Linked DNA regions of Homo sapiens. The protein of the gene in region 1 interacts with the protein of each later gene in a biochemical or structural test. Each region holds a gene or a part of one and is shown in the gene's direction. Other genes may lie near its edges.

Evidence for each region.
Region 2: of the proteins of CDC14A (region 1) and WEE1, one has a biochemical effect on the other in vitro, tested with the Homo sapiens proteins (one study listed by BioGRID).
Region 3: of the proteins of CDC14A (region 1) and CHRM1, one has a biochemical effect on the other in vitro, tested with the Homo sapiens proteins (one study listed by BioGRID).

What each region holds. Positions count from the first base shown.
Region 1 is NC_000001.11:100,495,454-100,502,555, forward strand, and holds part of CDC14A (dual specificity protein phosphatase CDC14A), read left to right. Parts: intron 1-548; coding exon 549-596; intron 597-2,631; coding exon 2,632-2,754; intron 2,755-3,475; coding exon 3,476-3,809; coding exon of another isoform or gene 3,810-3,926; exon of another isoform or gene 3,927-4,007; intron 4,008-7,102. UniProt on the Homo sapiens protein: Dual-specificity phosphatase. Required for centrosome separation and productive cytokinesis during cell division. Dephosphorylates SIRT2 around early anaphase.
Region 2 is NC_000011.10:9,569,425-9,576,734, forward strand, and holds the start of WEE1 (wee1-like protein kinase), read left to right. Parts: upstream 1-4,245; 5' UTR 4,246-4,509; coding exon 4,510-5,085; intron 5,086-5,262; exon of another isoform or gene 5,263-5,951; intron 5,952-6,068; exon of another isoform or gene 6,069-6,085; intron 6,086-6,463; coding exon 6,464-6,669; intron 6,670-6,805; coding exon 6,806-6,869; intron 6,870-7,062; coding exon 7,063-7,235; intron 7,236-7,310. UniProt on the Homo sapiens protein: Acts as a negative regulator of entry into mitosis (G2 to M transition) by protecting the nucleus from cytoplasmically activated cyclin B1-complexed CDK1 before the onset of mitosis by mediating phosphorylation of CDK1 on 'Tyr-15'.
Region 3 is NC_000011.10:62,918,323-62,926,307, reverse strand, and holds the start of CHRM1 (muscarinic acetylcholine receptor M1), read left to right. Parts: upstream 1-4,944; 5' UTR 4,945-5,090; intron 5,091-5,866; exon of another isoform or gene 5,867-6,148; intron 6,149-7,946; exon of another isoform or gene 7,947-7,985. UniProt on the Homo sapiens protein: The muscarinic acetylcholine receptor mediates various cellular responses, including inhibition of adenylate cyclase, breakdown of phosphoinositides and modulation of potassium channels through the action of G proteins.

The sequences.
Region 1 (7,102 bases):
TGACTTCTGATCACATTTGAAACCTGCTGATAGCTCAGATTGGGTTTAAAAAAAGGGGAATCAAAAGGTGCAAACGTTTGTAAATATCATCATTTTTTAAAATTACAATATACTGGGTGGCAAGGCCCCAGTCCACAAATTAATATAATGGTAAGCAGCAACATTTTTTTGACTTATAAATAAGAGATACACATAGCAGAAGGATGTTTTGCCGGTATGGTAAACACCAAACAGATTCACAGGGAATTTAGTTTTCATGTGTAATCTGGGAGAAACTATAACACTGTAGTCAGATTGGGTCTTTACTGAGTTCCTGATCTAAGGAATAAAGGTTCATATTGCTCAAAGATGAGGTTATCATTTTCTGCAGTATTATGAGAAAAGGGGATAGCAAGCCTGGTTCTGGGTAATCTAATATCCATTTGCAAGGTTTCTCCCTTTTGCTAATTTAATATTTTTACTGGTTTGATACCATTTGATGTGCCTTGTGGTCTTTGTGAAAACGTGTGCCCTGGTGATATGTGAGCATCTGTCTTTGATTTCCGCAGGTCAGATGATACAAAAGGACATCCAAGAGCAGTGTCCCAGCCTTTCAGGTACTGCCAATGAGGTTGAATGTCTAGTAGCTTGTAAATATATGCTTCCTTTTAGCCATGTTTCCCAAGCCTCAAACACGAAAATCAACTGTACACAGCTTTTTGCTTTTTAAATTGCTTCCTTTCTCTTCCATATTGTTTATGCCTTATTTTTAATGCTCACCATGAAAAGGATTTTTTTTTTTTTTTGCTGGCATGCCCACAGGACTGTGTGGTGGTGGTAGAGACATCAATGTATTTTGTGCTCTTAGCACATTGTGGAGGGGGGTCTCTAAGAAACTACAGGTGCTCTGCATTTCTCCTTTTGATCTAGTGATAGATCTAGCTTAAATTGTTTTCATTTTTATTGGTCCTCTTTCTATTTTTTCCCAATCAGCATGCATTTGTTCCCCTCCTTTATTTTCTAGTCTTATTTTCTTCTCTACCTTCCTTTTCAAGAGGAAACACTAGTTTTGTTCTGTGGAAAAATGTCCCCTGAAACCTCCGGGAGTGGTACCACGATCTGGTGTGGCACTCAGTGAGAGCAGCAGAGATGTTTGGCCAAGAGTGTTGATGAAATAGGGGAAAGAAGCTCTTCACCTGCTGGTTCTTATTCATTCTTAGGTTTAGGACTGTTTAGTGAGGGCAGTTCAAAGAGGGCTTAAGCATCTGGAGCTTCTGGAGAAGCTTGAATTGCTTCTTTGTAGAACTTTTTCCATTTTTATTTTGGAGGCAAAACATGAGCTTAAGCTGCTGTTTGGTGGGTGGATAATGAAGGAAAGAGTCTACAAGTAAATAAGCTTTTCTCTAGCAGAGAGGAAAACAGAGTTCAGCTATATTAAATGATTTATCTAGGATCAAACAGATTTGGTATTAAGATTATGACTGGGCCCTGGCTCTCCAGATTTGAGTCAGTTTTTCCTTTTTGTCCACTTGGCAAATATTTATTGAGCACCTGCTCAGAATCCAGCATTGTGCTAGCCACTGGGAATTGAAATGAGAGAGAAGTCTTTGCCCTCAAGGAGCTTACATCAGGTAACGGAGATAGACAAATATCAGATGACGCAATATGGTATAAGAGCTATGATTTACTATGAGAATATATGATGAAACATATATTGCTTGGGAACTCAGAGAAGGCTTGCTTGATGAGGTAACAGCTGATTGGACCATTAAAGGCTAAGTGTGATAGAAGTGGGTCAAATGGACATGGAAGATAAGAGGTAGAGGATGGGAAGGAGATGAGAAAATGCCATGGCAGGGAAATAGTCTGTGCAAACTGGACAAACGTGTGGACGCTACCCATTCAGGGAACTCAAGGCATTCTTATGTAGCTGGAATAGAGATGTCCAATGGGAAAGTGTGGAAAGAAGGACCTGTCCAGATTTTGGAGGGGCTGCATATGCCAAGCCAAAGAGTTTCTATAGGCTTGTGGGCACAGAGGAAAGATGAAATGATTTAAACAGTGAAGTGACATGATTCACTGAAGGCTATTCACAATTTGAATTGTTTAGGAATAAGATTAAAAGATGCCACTTGTAGTCAAGGATAAGAAATAAAGATGGCCTCGCCTAGGGTAGTTTGCAGGGTGAAAAGAAGAGGATGGATTTGACATATAAGAAGTGGAATCTAAGGTTGTGCTGAGGAATGAATACCAGTGGCAAAGAAGGGCAGTGGCCCAGGAAGACAGGATCATGGCTAAGAGCAGGACTTTGACTCCTGGGTTTGAATCCCAGGTCTGCTGTTCACTAACTGAGTGACTGGATGAGGAACTTTTCCTCTGTGTTTTTGTTTCCTCACTTGTAAAGTAAGGACAGCAATATTAGCTACTTCTTAGGGTTGTTGTAAGGACAAGCTGAGCTGACATCTTTAAGGTTCTTAGAACAGTGCCTGGCAGAGTTAGTGCTGTGTCAGTGGTGGCTGCCGCTGCTGTCATCACTATTAGGACCTGTCATGATATCTTTAAGATTGATTAATTTATCTTGTCCTAGTTAGTTGCTGAATGTTTAAGATAAGACTACTTTATTGTGACACTTTGCCATTTTTCTCCGCAAAGATTAAGTTCATCCCTGCAAGGATCTGCAGTTACTTTGAAGACATCAAAAATGGCACTGTCCCCTTCAGCAACGGCCAAGAGGATCAACAGAACTTCTTTGTCTTCGGGTGCCACTGTAAGAAGGTAATTTTTCTCTCCCTCTTCTAAGGTGCTGGTTTGAGGTAAAGGAAGCTTGCAGCAGGCGATGAGTTTAGCTGCAGTTTTGTCAGAGGAGGGGACAAGGGAGAAGAGGAGAAACCACGGAAGACCCTGTGATGTTCTGGGGCTTCCGTTCCTGTCTTGGGAAGGCAGGAGACAAGGTTGTGGAGGGAATGGTGCAAAGCGTGCTCTTCTTCTAGAGAGTGAGCAGCTGGCTTAGTGTGATCCAGAAAATGGAGTTCAGTTGTATATACAAATGATATTGTCATTTCTCAGCTGACACGTATAGGCAAGGGAGAACTAACCAAAATGGGTAGGGATGTTTGATGTAGTCATGTGATTGAATATGTACTTAAGTCTGCTTTTAATGCTCCCCTTACATGGCCCTTTTCCTTTACTTCCCACCCCAGGGTAAATAAAACTCTGTGATGTTCTATTTCAAGATCTGTAGTCAAAGTGTTTTAGCCAGTTTCTTGGGTCCTAGTTAACTGCTTTTGACAAAGCAACTTGATATGTATAACTCAAGGCTACATATTATCATAACACCAAGGGTGATGAGGAAGCCATCCTGACATCATTCACATTGATCAGATTCATCTTCATCATGTTCCCCTAATGTCATGAGTATGTGTTTTAGAAACGTGAGCTCTGTGTGATTGTACATTGTTGTCTGTTTTTTCCCTCCTCACTTGTGTTTTCCATTCAGCTTTTCCATAAACTCCCGGCTAGCCAGTTCTCTAGGGAACTTGAATGCTGCAACAGATGATCCAGAGAACAAAAAGACCTCCTCATCCTCTAAGGCAGGCTTCACAGCCAGCCCGTTTACCAACCTCTTGAATGGCAGCTCCCAGCCAACTACCAGAAATTACCCTGAGCTCAACAATAATCAGTACAACAGAAGCAGCAACAGCAACGGGGGCAACCTGAACAGCCCCCCAGGCCCCCACAGCGCCAAGACAGAGGAGCACACCACCATCCTCCGACCCTCCTACACCGGGCTTTCTTCTTCTTCAGCGAGATTCCTGAGCCGTTCTATCCCTGTAAGTGCGCAGACACCACCTCCTGGTCCTCAGAACCCTGAATGCAACTTCTGTGCCTTGCCTTCCCAGCCGAGGCTGCCACCAAAGAAATTTAATAGTGCCAAGGAAGCCTTCTGAGCGATGCCTTCCCTCTGTGCTGTGAAACTGTCTATGCACTACATTCTGCTAGCTCCTCTTCAAGTAAACGCCAAGTCACAACTGGGTTTTCTTCCTTCCTTCTTTTTCTTCTTACCCCCAACTCCTTTTTAAGTAGTTTCTCTTAAAAGGGAAATAGCTTTCATTCTTTTGATTATGGGCATTGTTGACTTCAGTTACTTTTCAGTTATGTTTCCAATCACTCTGAATATCTGGTGCTAAGCCAGGAGCTGATTCATACAGTGGATAGCATTTGCTGGGGGTGCGCTGGTTTGGGGAATTATGGCTTTTTCCGCATCATATATCAGTGAATTAATTTTGGAGTATTGAAACGTGGAAGGTGCTGAGTGAACAGTATCTTCCTAGAACTAAGCATTAGGCCCTTGAATATTTCACCTCCTGCAAGGAACTGACCCAGAATAAAATAAGTGGCAAGTGGAAGATATTTCTAAGAAGGGCTTATAGGTAGGTACCTGGGATGCAAGGTGGGGAGCAAGCAGAGTATCAGGAAGGTGTTTAAAAGTAGCCAGCACTCTTCTAGAGAAAGGTGGGAAGACCTCCAAACACATCTTACCAATGAGATCTCTATTTAGGTTACCAAGCTCTCTTTAACAATCAACAATACCTGGTAAGGTAAACTCTGTTGGTAAACTCCTATTATGAATTACTTTAATAACCTGTTTTGATTGCCTCTAGGGGTATTGAGATCTATAGGAATGTGAGTTTCGATTTGAGAGGAACAAGGACAAATAGGAAGGAGAAATCAATCCTATGTATTAAGGAAATATGAAGCATGGTACATATACATACAGTGTTGCAACACTGATCGTACTCAGGGCATGAACAAGCCCTGGGTGTCTTGGAAGGCTCTGGCCTGGTGTCGCTTCACACTTGCTATTCTTGAAACATTTCCTCAGCCATCATCTAGGGAGTGCCTGCTTCTGTAGAGAAGAGGGGAGGAGGAAAGGTGCTGGTGGCAGTGTGCTGCGTATGGCCCACTCAGCAAAACAGGAGCCCCATGGTTCATTCTTAATGATATCTACTTTCTTTAGTTGACAGTTTAGAAACCATGAGGATGGGCCAGGCTCAGTGGCTCATGCCTATAATCCCAGGACTTTGGGAGGCCAAGGCTGGTGGATCACCTGAGGTCAGGAGTTCGAGACCAGCCTGGCCAACATGGTGAAACCCCGTCTCTACAAAAAATACAAAATTAGCTGGGCGTGGTGGCACGCACCTGTAATCCCAGCTACCATAAGGCAGGAGAATCCCTTAGAACCTGGGAGGTGGAAGCTGCAGTGAGCCAAGATCGTGCCACGGCACTCCAGCTGGGTGACAGAGCCACTCTCAAAAAAAAAAAAAAAAAAAAAAAAAAAGAAACCATGAGGATGAGGATGTTTTCTAACATGAGAATGCAGTGTGTGTGTGTGTGTGTGTGTGTGTGTGTGTGTGTGTGTGTTCATGTGTGGTTGCATTAGATTCATTACCACTCCTGTCCCTACCTGAGACCTCTTTTAAAACTTTTACCCTCTCTGTCCACTCTCAACCCATTCCCTAAGAGGAGCCTGGCATATCTGATGTTCCCTGTCCTATTTTACAGGCATGAGCCACCATGCTTGGCCTTGGCATTAGTTTAGATTCTTTTACAGATTAGGGTCCCAGGAAATTGCCAGCCCATCTACCCCTTAATCTGATTCTGATCCCATGATCCCACTATAAAAATTGGGTGTATAGGTATCATAAAAACTTAAATCCATGTAACTAAGGATTAGATGTAAAAAGATAATATATTTACATTTTCCTAACTATATTTATAAATCATATACTTTCCAGCAGGCATTGAGTTCAGTCAGCATTTTCACATACCGATTGTGGATCAGCCTCTTCTTTTGGATCAGAATGCAGATCTTTCCATTTTCAGAAAAAGTGCTAGAGATATATAGATAATCATACAGTCATGTGCTGCCTAATGATGTTTTGGTCAATAACAGACCATGTATACAATGGTGGTCCCATAAGACTATAATGGAGCTGAAAAATTCCTATTGCCTAGTGACGTCGTAGCCCTCGTAGGGTTATAACTGCAGTACTCATGTGTTGTGGTGATGCTGGTGTAAACAGACCTACTGTGCTGCAGCCATATAAAAATCTAGCAATACAATTATGTACAGTGCATAATATTTGATAATAAATACCTGTTACTGGCCTATGTATATACTATACTGTACTTTATATCGTTATTTTAGAGTATACACCTTCTCCTTATTAAAACAAAAGTTAACTGTAAGCCTCAGGCAGGTCCTTCAGGAGGTATTCCAGAAGAAGGCATTGTTGTTATAAGAAATGACAGCTCCATGTGTTACTGCTCCTGAAGACCTTCCAGTGGGACAAGATGTGGAGGTGGAAGACAGTGATATTGATTATCCTGACCTGGTGTAGGCCCAGGCTAATGTGTGTGTTTGTGTCTTCATTTTAAACAAAAAATTTAGAAAGTAAATACTAAAGATATTTAAAATAAAAAAAATAGGATAAGGATGTAAAGGAAGAAAATACTTGGTACAGTTACACATACAATGCTTATTTTAAGTGTTAATTTCAAGTGATTGGGAGTTGATAAAAACATTAAAAAATAGTAAACTAAGTATTATTACAAAAGAGTCAAAAGTTAAAACAATTAAGTTTATAAAATAAAAATGTTACAGTAAGCTAAGGTTAATTGATTATTCATGAAAGAAAAATTTTTAATATAGATTTAGTATAACCTAAGTGTACAGCATTTATAAAGTCTACAGTAGTGTTCAGTAATGTCCTAGGCCTTCATGTTCACTCACCACTCACCCACTGACTCACCCAGAGTAACTTCCCTTCCTGCAAGCTCTATCCATGGTAAGTGCCCTTTACAGGTGTACAATTTTTAAGTCTTTTATACCATATTTTTACTGTCTATTTTCTATGTTTAGGTATGTTTAGACACACATACTTACCACTGTGTTATAGTTGCCTGCAATATTCAGTAGAGTAACATGCTGTACAGGTTTGCAGCCTAGAAGCAATAGGTTATACCATTTAGCTCAGGTGTGTAGCAGGCTCTACCATCTAGGTTTGTATAAGTGCACTCTATCGTGCACACAGCAATGAAATTGCCTAAGGATGCATTCTCA
Region 2 (7,310 bases), on another chromosome or scaffold:
AGTAAACAAAGTAAGAGTGTTACATAGTCCGTGCTGGGTGCGGTGGAAAGTCTGGAGTAGGGAATGGAGAGTCAGGAAAGGCTTCACAGAGGAAATGGCTCTAGCACTGAGTCTTGGTTTCAACTTAAAAAAAAAATTCCTTCAGCCAGGTGCAGTGGCTCACACCTGTAATCCCAACCCTGTGAGAGGCTGAGGTAGGCAGATCACTTGAGCTCAGGAGTTCAAGACCAGCCTGGGCAACATGGTGAGACCCGGTCTCTACAAAAAATACAAAAATTCACCAGGTGTAGTGGCACTTGCCTGTAGTCCTGGCTACTCAAGAGGCTGAGGTGGGAGAATTGCTTGAGCCCAGAAGGGGAGGTTGCAGTGAGCCGTGAACGCACCACTGCACTCCAGCCTGGGCAATAGAGCAAACCCTTGTCTCAAGGAAAAAAAAAAAAAAAATTATTTCCCCCAATCATTCTACACATTTATTGTGAACTTACCTCTTCGATTCTGTGTGAGGACTTCAAAGTCCTGGGTCTGTGGACCAAGAACTCTTCCCTTCCCATCCACAACCCAAGCCCTTCTGCCTGCCTTAGCCTACTTCAAAGACCTCCCATTTAGGGACGCAGACAGGTGGCAAAGTAGGAGTTGACAAAACAAAACAAAACATTGTTAAGAGTGTTTACCTTCAGGAAGGGGAACTGGGCTGGGATTTGAAGGGATAGGTGGGAGAATTTTGTACCATTTAAGTTTTTGTTACTGGAGTGGGGAAAAACCATGGGGAAAAATAGGAAGTGTGATGGCTGCTACCTCTACAATCTTGCATTAAATAGAGTACTAGAGTGGTGATCTCTGTTCAATTTTTTTTTTTTTTTCCTGAGATAGTTCTCGGTCTGCTGCCTAGGCTGGAGTGCAGTGGCACAATCACAGCTCACTGCAGCCTTCATCTCTCAGGCTCAAGGGATCCTCCCACTTCAGCCTCCTGAGTAGCTGGGACCACAGGCATGTGACACCATGCCCAGCTAATTTTTAAATTTTTAGTAGAGGTGAGGTCTCACTATGTTGTCCAGGCTGGTCTTGAACTCCTGGCCTCAAGTGATCCTCCTGTCTTGACCTCCCAAAGTGTTGGGATTGCAGGTGTGAACAACTACCACACCCGATTCAAAATCTTAAATAGGCAAACTTATCTGCAAATGTGCCAATTTAGGAAGCGAATAAACCAACAATTATTTAAATAAGGGCTCTTTTATCACTCACAAGGGAGTGAACGCCTAATCCACGTTAGAATACTGCAATAAACAAGGGTCCCCTACCCTCGGGGACCTTATTTTTCTAGAAGGAGATAGTAATAAACTAACAACGTACTTTGAGATAGAAATAAGCCTGCTAAGGAAATAAAGCCAGGTGTTGTGAAAGAGCAAAGAGTGAGGGAGGGGACGTGAGAACAGAGATACGGAATTCTTACATAGGAGGAGTTTAGGAGCATCAGTCTAGTTGTGGAGAGGCAACTAAAGGGCTTTAAAGTCCCATTTACTTAGAAAGCACACTATTTTCACATGCAGTTTATGTTACAGATCGATAAAAGTAGGGTTCTCTATTTTTATTTATGCTTCATAATAAATTGAGAAAATGTCAATTATATCAAATAATTATATTTGTCATCAGGAGTGGCAGGAGGGGGCCCACAGCCTGGGCAATATGGTGGCTCATGCCTGTAATTCCAGCACTTTGGGAGACGGAGACGGGCAGATTGCTTGAGCCCAGGAGTTCTAGACCAGCCTGGGCAACATGGTGAAACAGAGTCTCTACTAAAAATGCAAATATTAGCTGGGCGTGGTAGCACACATCATTAGTCCCAGCTATTTGGGAGGGTGAGGTGGGAGGATCTCTTGAGCCTGGGGAGATCGAGGCTACAGAGCCGTGATTGCACCACTGTACTCCACTTTGAGACAGGGTGGACAGAGTGAGACCCTGTCTCGAAAAATAAAAATTTAAAAAAAAGGAGTGGCAGGAGGGGAAGTGTTGGAGCAAGGGTTCTGAAAATCACTCCTTGGCTTTGGCCACTGTGGATCATTGACTAACTCTCCTTATACAAGTCTAGAATTCTTGTCCTCCAAGAGCTTAAAATTAAGTTTGCATGACCATATAAAAAACACATTTATACACCAGTTAGCAAATGTTAGGAGAAAAGACAGCTGTTGATCCTTCACTGTGTCTTCAGTTGTGTGATCTCAGGAAATTCCCGATTTGATGTGTTAAGTACTACCGTGTGTTTCAAGAAAAATTCAGCTTGAGTTTATTTAGCCTTTGAAAAGCATTAGAACAACATATATGACAAAGTGTTAATATGCATAAAGTGCTAACAATAAGAAAAATAGGCAATAGAGATAAATGTAAATTATCATTAAACCCATGACAACTGTTCAACAATATGAATCAAAACAACAAAACCACATCAACGAACATCCACTGATGTCCTGAATTCACAGAGTGTGCTCTAATCCACTGCTAGTGAGAATGTATTGTGTTTCTGGAGGGGGAGTTTGCCAGTTTATATCCTTTGACTGAGGAATTCTAACTCCAGGGAGGTATCCAAAAGAGTATTTTAAAAAGGCCAGGCGCGGTGGCTCACGCCTGTAATCCTAGCACTTTGGGAGGCCGAGGCGGGCAGATCACCTGAGGTCAGGAGTTTGAGACCAGCCTGCCAACATGGTGAAACTCCGTATTTTGCATTTTGTAAAAATACAAAAATTGGCCAGGCCTGGTATGTGCTTGTAATACCAGCTACCCGGGAGACAGGAGAATCGCTGGAACCCGAGAACCCGGGAGGTGGGGGCTGCAGTGAGCCGAGATCGCGCCACTGCACTCCAGCCTGGGGCGACAGAGCGAGACTCCGTGTCGAAAAAAACCAAACCAAACAAAAAACATGGAGAAGGAAGCATATACACCACGGGGTTGTTTACAACAGAAAACTGGAAGAGGCCGGGAGCGGTGGTTCACGTCTGTAATTCCAGCACTTTGAGAGGCCGAGGCGGGCGGATCACTTGAGATCAGGAGTTGGAGACCAGCCTGGCCAACATTGGGAAGTTCGTCTCTACTAAAAATACAAAAATTAGCCAGGTGTGGTGGCAGCCGCCTGTAATCCCAGCTACTCGGGTGGCTGAGGCATGAGAATCGCTTGAACTCTAAAGGCGGAGGTTGCAGGTTGTAGTGAGCCGAGATCGTGCCACTGCACTCCAGCCTGGGTGACAGAGCAAGACCCCGTCTCAGAAAAAAAAAAAAAAATAAATAAACAAAGAAAGAAAAAAGAAAACTGGAAGAAACGTGTAAGTGCATTAAGGGACAGATTAAATCAGTTTAACGAAGCACTAGGGAAATTTTTTAAAATTGCGTTTGAGTTTGCCGCGAGCCGGGCCAATCGGTTTTGCCAACGCATGCCCACGTGCTGGCGAACAAATGTAAACACGGAGATCGTGTGCCGGGCACTTGGTTTCGTGGTGGGCAACTGTGCTGCTGTTTCTTTTGGCCGCGGACAAGGTCGGCAGAGGTGGACCCCTGCTTGGGAGAGCTCTTCTCGCTGTGCTGACACCCGCCCCTAACAGTCACCCACCCCGGGGAAATAATGGGGCTCGGAGGCCTCCTCCCAGCCAGTGTCCAGCCTAAGCACATCGGCTCCCGCAGTTCAGAAAGGTCCCGAGGCCCGAGTCACCATTTCCGGCTCAGACCTCGACCCTGAACGTGGCTGCCCACTGCCACGCCCACTACGCCCCAGTGGCTCGCCCCAGGGGACGAGGGGCAAGAAGCGGCCTCCGAGGGCAGCGGCCGAAGGCCATTCGGTCCCTGGCTCTTCCCAGCTCGCAGAGACCCGGAGGCGCTGCCCGGCCGCCTGCCCCTCTTCAGATCCCCCAGCACCGGAGGAGCAGCGAGGGGGGTGCGTCCAGGCCGGCTTTCGGGTCGGCTTAGGCGAATCCAGCTCTCTTTTGCCCCTCCCAGAAGGCCCAGCCCCGTCCGGGCGGTGTTCGGGCGGCGCCGGGCCGGGCCCCCCGCCGCCCCAGGCTCGCTCATAGGCCCGGAACACCACAGCCCGCCCAGACTTGGCTGGCGCCGAGCCGGGGGTGGAGCCAGCGGGTTCCCGCCAAAATCGCGTAGCTGGTCCTTCCCCCGCGGGCTACGTCGCGCCCTCCTTTTTTTTTCAAACCCGGAGCTGCACTGGGATTGGTGGACTGGGCACTCACGTGGTTAACGGTCGCGGGAAGCCGCGGAGCCCGAACCTGAGACTGGACCTGAGGAGACCTCAGCCTCGGTGCTCGGGCCGCCCCGCCTCTGCCGGAAAGTCCGCGCCGCCGCTGCCGCCACCGTCCGCAGCCCGAGCGCCCCGGAGCCGCAGGCCGCCGCCGCGCAGAGACGCCGCGGCTGCGACTAGGCGCGCCCAGCCGCACGTGGCGGACCCGCCCCCAGGCCCGCAGTGTCCTGGACCCCGCAGGCCTCCGCTCTCCTGTCCTCGGCCCCGTCCCCAGGGCCGCGATGAGCTTCCTGAGCCGACAGCAGCCGCCGCCACCCCGCCGCGCCGGGGCGGCCTGCACCTTGCGGCAGAAGCTGATCTTCTCGCCCTGCAGCGACTGTGAGGAGGAGGAAGAAGAGGAGGAGGAGGAGGGCAGCGGCCACAGCACCGGGGAGGACTCGGCCTTTCAAGAGCCCGACTCGCCGCTGCCGCCCGCGCGGAGCCCCACGGAGCCCGGGCCCGAGCGCCGCCGCTCGCCCGGGCCGGCCCCCGGCAGCCCCGGCGAGCTGGAGGAGGACCTGTTGCTGCCCGGCGCCTGCCCGGGCGCGGACGAGGCGGGCGGTGGGGCGGAGGGCGACTCGTGGGAGGAGGAGGGCTTCGGCTCCTCGTCGCCGGTCAAGTCGCCGGCGGCCCCCTACTTCCTGGGTAGCTCTTTCTCGCCGGTGCGCTGCGGCGGCCCAGGAGATGCGTCGCCGCGGGGTTGCGGGGCGCGCCGGGCGGGCGAAGGCCGCCGCTCGCCGCGGCCGGACCACCCGGGCACCCCGCCACACAAGACCTTCCGCAAGCTGCGACTCTTCGACACCCCGCACACGCCCAAGGTGAGAGCGGCGGGCGCGGGCACCCGGCGGCCGGGGCCGCGGCGCCGGAGGGGCCAGCGCCGCTGCCTGGGTTCGGTTACAGAAGCGGCCGGCCGCTCCCCCCTCGCTTTCCTGCGCCGCCCCCCAAAGTTGGCAGCCCTTGTGTTTGGCCCTGCCCCGAGGTTGTCCGTTGAGATTATGTAACTGAACAATGGGCCTCGTCTGGAACTTCATCTTACAAAGGGGCCGATCGGCCCGTCCGGGTGGCCAAGGATTTGCCGCCCGTTGAGTCCGGGCCGCCCCGAGCGTGTCAGCCCCGAGTGCGGCACCGATAACGCGGTTCGCGAGGATGCTGGAGGGTGCCGGCCCGGCCACCTGACACTCCCGAGCCATAGGATGCCTTTTAAACGCGGCGATCGGGCCTGTAATTTGGGCGGCGCGGGCAGAAGGAGTTTAAAGAAAAATAATTGTCCCGCCCTGATCGTGTCGTGTCGTGTGGCGTGGATGGGGGAAAGGTCTGGGGCATGCAGGGAGACTACGCTTGGACTTGGGAGTAAAGGCTGGCCTTCCAAGCATTTACAGTCCTACAGACTCATCCTAAGTCCAGGCAGTACTGAGGCCTGTTTCTGGACAAGGTCTTGGCCCAGCATTTGTTTTTATCGTGGGTTTGCGGTGCCCAGAGTTTGGCCGGCCTCCGTGTGATTAGGAACATCCTACCGTAGATAAGGTATCTTAAAGAAGGAGGTGTTCAGCACCTGTGTTTTGAAAGGCCTTCGAGTACTGCGCAGATGACCACTTTTAAAACTGCAGATTTTAAAGCTGATACTTCCAGAGATTAAGACAAGCCTCGCATTTGTAAGGTTAACAGGGAAGATGCACCTTTTAAAGTGAGTTTGTTTTGTTTTCAATGTACTGTTTGTCATCAGCCTAGGCAATCTGTGTGCTTTCGAGCTGTACTGTTTATTGGCCGACTTGCTCAAGGCAAAATCCCTCTGGAAGTGAGGGGAGGAGTCCAGCGGAGGTGGCTATGGAAGCCCTATCTAGATGGGGGAGGGGAGATTTTATGGGGCTCTCGGACTGCTTTCTATTTTTGGATGGGTTGAAAGAATTTGTTAACTTTTAGCCACTAGAATGAACTTAGTTTTAGGCAGCATTTATATTCTTTTTAGGGTTAGAGGCAGATTTTACTTGGCTATTTTTTTCAAGAAAAGATAGTTAATATCCAGCTTCAGTCTTCCTAAATTAGCCACAATTTATTTTGCTTGAACTCTAACAAAGGCTTGTGTGTTGCTTTCACCTACGCATTCAGCCCTATGAAAGGCTCGTTGAAGGTTAGGTTGAGAAGGCTGACTATAGGACTTGGATCCTAAAAATTGTATTTGTATTTTTCTTTCCCTAGAGTTTGCTCTCCAAAGCTCGGGGAATTGATTCCAGCTCTGTTAAACTCCGGGGTAGTTCTCTCTTCATGGATACAGAAAAATCAGGAAAAAGGGAATTTGATGTGCGACAGACTCCTCAAGTGAATATTAATCCTTTTACTCCGGATTCTTTGTTGCTTCATTCCTCAGGACAGTGTCGTCGTAGAAAGAGAACGTATTGGAATGAGTAAGTCGTTTATTTAACAGTTTGGTTCTCCAAATAACCTAAGATTGGTTTGGTATACTTATCAAAATTTAGTTCCTATTTAATGGCATGGATGTATCTGTCAGATATATTGATAGAAAAATAACATTTTTTTTAGTTCCTGTGGTGAAGACATGGAAGCCAGTGATTATGAGCTTGAAGATGAAACAAGACCTGCTAAGGTAAATAGCTTTTTATTTTTATTTTTTTGAAATTTACTTTTCTGCCACTTAAAGCATGCTATGAATATGTTAATAAGCATTAACACATAAGGTAGAATGGTTTTTAAATTTCACACATAGCCCTATCACCATAGCAAGAAATAACTGTTTTCGTATATTTGTATTACATATATGGAAACACTTTTTATTACAGAGAATTACAATTACTGAAAGCAATATGAAGTCCCGGTATACAACAGAATTTCATGAGCTAGAGAAAATCGGCTCTGGAGAATTTGGTTCTGTATTTAAGTGTGTGAAGAGGCTGGATGGATGCATTTATGCCATTAAGCGATCAAAAAAGCCATTGGCGGGCTCTGTTGATGAGTATGTATTAAACATTTTGTCTTTTGCTCTTTTGTCCCCTATGGTGTTACTAACATTAAGGTTTCAGCTGGTCAA
Region 3 (7,985 bases), on another chromosome or scaffold:
GCTCCTCTCCACGGCCCGGTCCAGCGGGGAGTCCGAAACGCCACGTTGCGTTATCTCAGTTCCCAGCATTCACTACCCCTGGCAGGACCCCGGGCGCCGAGTCAACTCAGCGGAGTCTCCGGCCGGGCTATAAGGACCCGGGAACGGCAGGAAAACACGCGAGGCGCCGCTTTCGCGACCGCCCCAAACCCATCTTTTCTTCGGGAACTGCCCGCAAGACTTGGGGCTGGGGAGTGGAGCTGCTTCTCCGCACTCCCACTGCCCTCCGGAGCCCAGCACGTAGCCGGGCAGGAAAGGTGAAGCGTCTACAAGGCCTCAATTTCGAAACCGGACTCGGAAAATCCCGATTTCCTGTCCCAATAAGATGCCTTTATTGTGGCCGCGTCCGCTCTCGCCTCGGACGGCGGGGACTCTGGGGGCCCCTTACTGGGCCTGCTCTATACGCAGCCCCGCCCTGGATTTGAGTTTCTTGTTTTACATCTGGGAATTAGTCTCTCCAGGAGTCCTGGCGGGAGGGAGTGGGGGGAGAGAGGAAGTTGAGGACCTAAGGCCATTGAAGGTGAAGATGCGAGGAGGGGCGCCCTTAGGCCGACCCGCTGCCTCCCACCCGGACTCAGAATGTGTGCCCCAGGACAGAGGAAGCGGCACTGTAAAAGTGGCACATTTAGCTGGGTTTGAGTTTCTGACACGGATTAAAACCAAGGGCGGAGACTTACACTCCGGGTCTGCAGCGCACTCCCGGAGCCTGCTCATTCATTCCTCCACCCACCTGCGGCCTTGCCGGACCCTGGGAATCTTAAAAATGCTGTCCCACAGTCCCTGCCGTCTCTGGAACTGCAGCAGGTGCTCAGCCCCAGGATGGCTCCAGGCGCACTGACCTCATCCTCCATGAAACCACAGGGACCCACGCCTCTTGTAAATCTACTCATCTGTAAAATGGGAATAATGGAACCTCCCTCATAGAGTTGTGAAAGTAAATTAAAGAATATAGGCCGGGCGCTGTGGCTCACGCGTGTAATCCCAGCACTTTGGGAGGCCGAGGCGGGTGGATCAGGAGGTCAGCATATCAAGACTATCCTGGCTAACAAGGTGAAACCCCGTCTCTACTAAAAATACAAAAAATTAGCAGGGCGTGGTGGCATGCGCCCGTGGTCCCAGCTACTCGGGAGGCTGAGGCGGGAGAGTCGCTTGAACCCGGGAGGCAGAGGTTGCAGTGAGCCGAGATCGCACCACTGCACTCCAGCCTGGAGGAAAGAGCGAGACTCCGTCTCAAAAAAAACAATAAAATAAAATAAAATAATAAGAATATAGAGGCCGGGCGGATGCGGTGACTCACGCCTGTAATCCCAGCACTTTGGGAGGCCAAGGTGGGTGGATTATTTGAGGTCAGGAGTTCGAGACCAGCCTGGCCAACATAGCGAAACCCCGTCTCTACTAAAAATACAAAAATTAGCTGGGCGGTAGTGGCGCGCGCCTGTAATCCCATCTACTCGGGAGGCTGAGGCAGGAGAATCCCTTGAGCCTGGGAGGCGGAGGTTGCCGGTAAGCCGAGATCACGCCACTGTACTACAGCTTGGGCGACAGAGTGAGACCCTGTCTCACAAATATATATATATATATATATATATATATATATATAGAGAGAGAGAGAGAGAGAGAGAGAGAGAGAGAGAGAGAGCACTTAGCAGTTCCTGACACATAGTAAGTGCTCAATAAGTGTTATAAAAAAGAACTGCCGGACGCGGTGGCTCAGTAATCCCAGCACTTTAGAAAGCTGAGGGGGGCGGAGGCGGGCGGATCACTTCAGCTCAGGAGTTCAAGACCAGCCTGGCCAACATGGTGAAACCCTGTCAATAAAAAATTTAAAAAAAAAAAAAAAAAAAAAAAAAGCCAGTGGGGTGGCGCGCGCCTGTAGTCCCAGCTACTCAGAGTGGGTGAGGGGGTAGGGCTGCGGTGGGAGGATCGCTTGAGCCCGGCAGGCAATTGCAGTGAGCTCTGATCGCGCCACTGCACTCCAGCTTGGCCAAGAGACCGAAACCCTGTATTAAAAAAAAAAAAAAAAACCGCAGTGATGGCTTTCACTTTTTGCAGACGCACGTGCCACGTTTTACCTGCAGAAGCTCAACTAACCCGTCAAACAGCCTGGTCGGGGAGGTATTTCTACCCTTCTTGTCACTGATGAAGAAACTGAGACCTAGAGAGGGGGCCTAGCTTGCTCAGGCCGCTTCAACTAGAAAAAGGCCAAGCTGAATTCGCATTCAGGGCACTCTCCTCTTGCACAGTAAGGGGGCCGAGACTGGGGCCGAGCCGCGCAAGGGCGACTCCACGTTCCCTTGGTGGCCTGGAGGACTGAATTCTCGACCAGGCGACCAAAAATAACAACCAGCAGGAGCCGAGACCCGAGAGTCAGACCCCACCCAACCCAGCCAGAAATGAGGGAGAACTGGAGGGGGTCGCGCGGGGGCGGGGCCAAAGCCCCACGTGCGCCGCCTGCAGCCGCTTCAAGAAGCCCTTTGTCGCGAGCAGCCGCGTTCGTGCCGCACTCGGAGGCTTAAAATAAAGACAATGTTCCCAGCCTCCCTGCGGCTAAATCGGGCGCGAGTGCGGGGGTGGTGAGCGAGCCGGGCGGGAGCGCTTCTCCAGGCCGTACCTCTCTTCTCCCCTCCTGCCTCAGTTTCCCCATCTGATAAGGGTGAGCTAGCCAAGTCTGGGCGGGGACGTCAGAAGAGTGATACAGTGGTGGGGGTGGCGGGGGGCGTCATCCCCCTGCGTCCGCGACTGCACAGACTTCAGAAGAAAGCCGCGTGGGACAGAGGGGGGCACTCAGGAGGAGGCAGGGGAAAGCTGGACACCCTCCCCACCCGCCCACAAAATAAGTGTTTTTATTTCTAAAGGGACGTGTGCAGAGGCGGTGGGAGAAGAGAAAAGGGAGACCAAGGAGACTGGGGGGAGGTGGCAAAGAGGGAGCCTGATTCAGATTCGGAAATGGATGTTGAGCGTGGAGGCCTAACACCCCCACACTCAGCCACGTGTACGCGCACAAGTACACGCAGCCCCACCGCGCCGCCCAAGCCGCAGCCGCAAACCCAGGGCAGCCCAGCAGGGGGCATCCCGAGTCCGCGCCCAAGGGTAGGGACTGGTCAAGTTCTGACCCAACCCTGACCGGCTGGGTGACCCTGGGATGGAAAGGGGATGCTCACTTAGATTTCTCTCCAAGCTGCAGCGTCTGCTTGACTTCAGCAGGGAGGAGGACTGGGTGCCTGCTGGAACCCCAGCTGGCTTTGAGAAGCACAGATGCCCCCACATGTACCTGCCACGTGTGCCCACCAGTAGCTGCTGACCAAACCCCAGGAACTCCAGTTTCAGCTCCACTTGGCTCCATTGGCCAACTGGGCTCCTGGGTGAGAAAGCCCCAGGTTACCCTCAGGCACCAGCATTGGCGGGGTTGTGGGGGCGGGGGGCGGCGCTTGGTGGGGAAATGAGTAGGGGAAACCCCTGCCCCAGACTCCAGAGCCCTGGGCTTAGAGCCAAGTGACCTGAGCCCAAACACCTGCCCACCACATGCTAATCATACCTCTGCTCTTCAGATTTCTCACCTACAAAATGGGGATAATTGATGCTCCCATTCCTTCCCACCTCTCACCCCAAGACTTCGACACAGCCCAGTGGGCAAAGAACACAGCAGCCCCAGAAGGCAGTCCCTGCAGCCTCCAACTCTCCTCCCCAGTCAGCTCCCGGGGAGGTCTCTAGGGCCAAACAGAGGCGGTGCAGGACCCACATCTCTAGGGCAAACGGCCCCCCAGGGGTTCTATCTCTGAGGAAGCTCAACACAGAAGTCCAGACCAGCCTGGCAGGGAGGGATGCTGGCCTCACCCAGTAGGGCTGAGGGAGATTGGGAGGAGGGCTCATCTCCTCCCAGGTACACACCTGTGAGCCCTGAGTGGGAGTCAGGGGAGACAGAGCTTGACAAGCTGGGAGGAGAGCTGTCTGTCTGCCTGTCTGTCTTCCAAGTGGAAGCTTGGGGTGGAGCAGGCAGGTAGAGGCTGCCTCACTTGTCAGAATTAGCAAGTTCCACAGTTGGGCAACACTCAGCCACACATCAGATACAGACACACGTGTGCACACGCGTCCTGCCTCCAGACTGATAGGGTCACACCTGCACTTACACAGGCTGCATGGTGACATGAGTACACAGGGACACACATATGCAAGGCACTCAGCCGCACATGGGGCAGGCACCTGGCCCTCTACTCATCCCCGAAAAGCAGACACCCATATACCCTCACAACAGGCTATGCATAGCCCAATGCTAGCGCACACAGCCCAGCATGCGGGCACGTTCACTCAGCCCCCGGGCGGGTGCGCCAGCCCTCTGGGTCTGTTCCAAGTTGGAGCCTCTCACGTGAGGCCCAATGTGTCATTTCCAAACAGAAGGAATCTAGCTCTCTCACAGCAGGGAGGAAGAGCAGGGTGTGTAGTTGGGTGGGTGGGTGCGTGGGCATGTGCAGGGGGGAGGGCGTGTGTGCGAGGGAAGCAGGCATGTGAATACCAGGGCATGTGTGTTGGGGCATGGTGCACAGGGGCTGGGGGCTCTAAGGTTGGGTGGGGGGAGGAGCCCAAGGAAACAGTGTGCCTTTGTGAGGGTGTGTGTGCCGCCGGGTCTGTGCAGTGGGTGTGGGTGTTTGTCTCCCTGTATCCGCCTTCTCTCCCGTCCGGGACTTTTAGCCTTCCTGGGCTCGCCTTCCTCATGTCCTTTCTCCTCCCTCTTGGGGCTCAAATTGGGTGCCCTGGTGAAGGAGGGGGGCACACTCCAGAACCTAGTCCAACCCCAGACGCTGCCTGAGGCTTCCCTCCAGCTCCCCTCCCTTCCTTTTCTCCCTTTCCTCCCTCCCTCTCTTTCCCTTTCTCCCTCCCCGCTAAGGCTGGCGTGCCAGGGGGTGGGACATGCCAATCACTGGCTGTGCCTCTCCCGCTGCCAGCACAGGGCGCAGCTCCCCCTGGGAGCCAGGTGTTTGGGTCCCTGGAGACGCCGCAGGCCCCCAGGGAGGCAGTGGGGCTGAGGACCCTACAGACCCCTCTTCAGCCCCGTGGTGAGTACATTTGGGAGGGCTTGGGAGGGGCTGCACTAAGGTAGAGGGTAGGAGGGTCCTGGGGAGCGGGGGAGGGCAGGGATCAGGATGAGATGGAAATAGGGATGGACTCACAGAGATAGGAGGAGGCCAGGGAGGGGTCTAGAGGGCAAGGGGGCTCTGTAGCATTGAACACTGACTGCTCCAAACACTCGGCCTCCTGGCTTTGAGTGGATATAGCTGATGTTTTTCTGGGCTTCTGCTGGCAGAGGAGATGGAGATCCCCCTCAGGAAACTGGACCTGAGGCCCAGAAGGGATTAGGCTGCCTGGTAGCAAGCAGAACCCCCAACACCCTAGGGGCAGAGTGGGAAGGGCAAAGGGCCAGGAAGCAGCCCTTGCCACCAGCATCCTGTGGGAGGTTGACCCCCATCTTGATGGGGGTGCCAGTCCCAGAACCTCCTGTCCTCCCTCAGGGCACCCTGAAACCCACCACCCCCGTCCACCTCAGCTCCCCCAAGATGGACTGAATCAGGCTGCTGGCCAGATAGAGAAGCTAGAAGCCAAGGTGGGTGTCAGGCCAGAAGCCAGCAGGAGACCAGGCAAAGAGCCCCAGGGCTCTTTGGGGACAAATGGGCATGTGGGTGGCCACACTAGCCAGGGAAGGTGGCCCTGACGTGCGCAGGGGCCCAGAGGACCCTCCTTATGTTTCTAGTATCTTGGGCTCCCGCAGGGTGGGTCTCAGTCCTATATCCAGGCAATGCATGGATACCAATGGGCACCCACGCCAGGTACTCACCCCAGTGCCCGCAGACTGCACAACATGGGGATGGGCTAGGGGCCAGGAACTCTGATGCTTGTAGAGTTGTCAGCTCCTGGGCAGGCCAGCTGGGGAGGGGGTCGTCAGCTCTCATTAGGTCATCCAGACATGTGCAGCTTAGAGGTTATCAGAGCCAATGGAGAGGGGTTCACATCTTTGCACAAAACACACCTGCAGCTCCACCCAGACTGACCCAAGACCCCTGCCCAACTGGCTGGAAGGAGTCAGGCAGTCTCCAGTAGCCAGACAGTCTCCTTTCTCAGGGTAATCAGCTGTTCAGTGGGCTGTCAGATGAGAGTTCTCTGCCCTCTGACCTCAGCCACCAGGCAAGCTGCAGTCGCTATCGCGGCTGAGATATGAAAGGGAAGGAGATAGTGAAATGGGCTGCAGAAGATGTGGGTCTTGGCTCGCAGCTGACAGCTGGCGGTTGGAGTTCTGAGAACTGGATTCTGAAGTGTAATGGGGAGTCCAAAGTGTCAAGAAGGGGCTAACCAGAGGTCATGTCAGACCTAGAAAGGAGGCTTTCTATTGTATGGAGGGACTGAGGCTGAGAAAGGGAAAGGGACATGCTCATGGTCGGAGAAGGGATATGTAGGGATCCAGCTGGGGCTCGGACCCCTTCTCCGCATCCTCAGCACAACACTGCGCTGCCGCCTCCATGAGCAGGAAGATGGGGTGGGAGAGCAGGGGGCGCAGTAAGCTCTGAGACGCAGAAGCTTGGGCTCCCAGCAGGCGGGGAGAGGTGGGTGAATTGCGCTGGGTTTCTGCTCTGCTGTGGTGCCATGGTGATGCCTACAAGGATGGAGGAGGGAGGGAGAGAGAAGAAAGGAAATGAGGAGGAGAGTGCAAGGAGCCAGGAGCAGGGGGCTTGCGGAGAGGAGGATGAGGGACCCAGAACCTCTGATGCCACACTGGCAGAGTGAGGTCTAGGGTCCAGCTGCTCATGCCCAGGCTCTGTCATGGTCTGGCCAAAGTCAGGCAACTGCTTAAGATCCATCATGGGTGAGCAAATTTGGCAGTGATTCTAGGGCTGATGCTTCTCTTCCAGCTAAGCAGTGTGTTTCATGTAGCATTTAACTGATGGCTGCTGCCCTCCACAAGACTAGTTGGCCCTCCCAATGGCAACTGTTGAGCCTTAAAAATGTGATAAATTCTGTTTACTCCCTCATTCTCAAAGCCAGACATCAGGGGTGGAAGTTTTGTGCACCTTAATGGGTCAAGAGCTGCTGTCAAAGAAAAGTTAACCCCGAGGGGAGAGCTGCCTCGTATGGGCTGGCTTCTGGGGTCAGGCCCTAGCAGAAGGGATCAGTGAGTAGACCTGGCCAGAAGGAGCGCCCTCCTCATTGCATATGTGAGGCCTCAGGTGCCCAACCCCACAGCCCCCTCCACATACCTCCCACTCCCCAATGTTATCCCCTCTTCCTAACCAGGACTCTACCAGCTTCCAGGCCCAGAATCACAAGATGGCTCCGCTCCTCCCTCCTAAATATCTTCCCCAGCATCCCCTCATTCCCTCCCTCCCCTTCTGTACTCTTTGGCCAGCGGTACGTTCAGAAAAGCCTGGTGTTCAGGAATCCCTCTCCCCATTTCCCTTTCCCTGCCTCCCCCAGTGGTTCTCTCCACTCCCAGTTGCTCTCACAAGCCAGATCCCCAGCCCCTAGGGATTGGTCCTGGGCGCTGGGAGTCAACAGTCTGGCCTGCTGTAATAAAGGCTCTGACCTCATCCCTTAACCCTTTGAGCCCAGGCTAACATTCTCCTCTCCCCAGTGACAAATGCTTTGGCACGTCCATGTCTGTCCTGGCACCTCACTTAGCTTCCCTGCAGCCGGGTGAGGCAGGGTTTCCTTGGTCCACTTTACAGACAAGGATGCTCTTGGCTGTTTTTCTCCTATGCTCTCCAGCCAGGCAGGGCCTCACTCAGGGAAGCAGGGACCTGGCAGATGAGATGTGGGAGCTCAAGGGAGAAGAGGGGCCTCTGGACCATGCTCTGGACCTGGTCCTGACCCCCACAGGTTCACCCTCAGGCTCCAGGGTCTGAAGTTGAGTACACACACGTACATTTATTCCACAGGTATTTATTGAGCAACTACTATCTGCC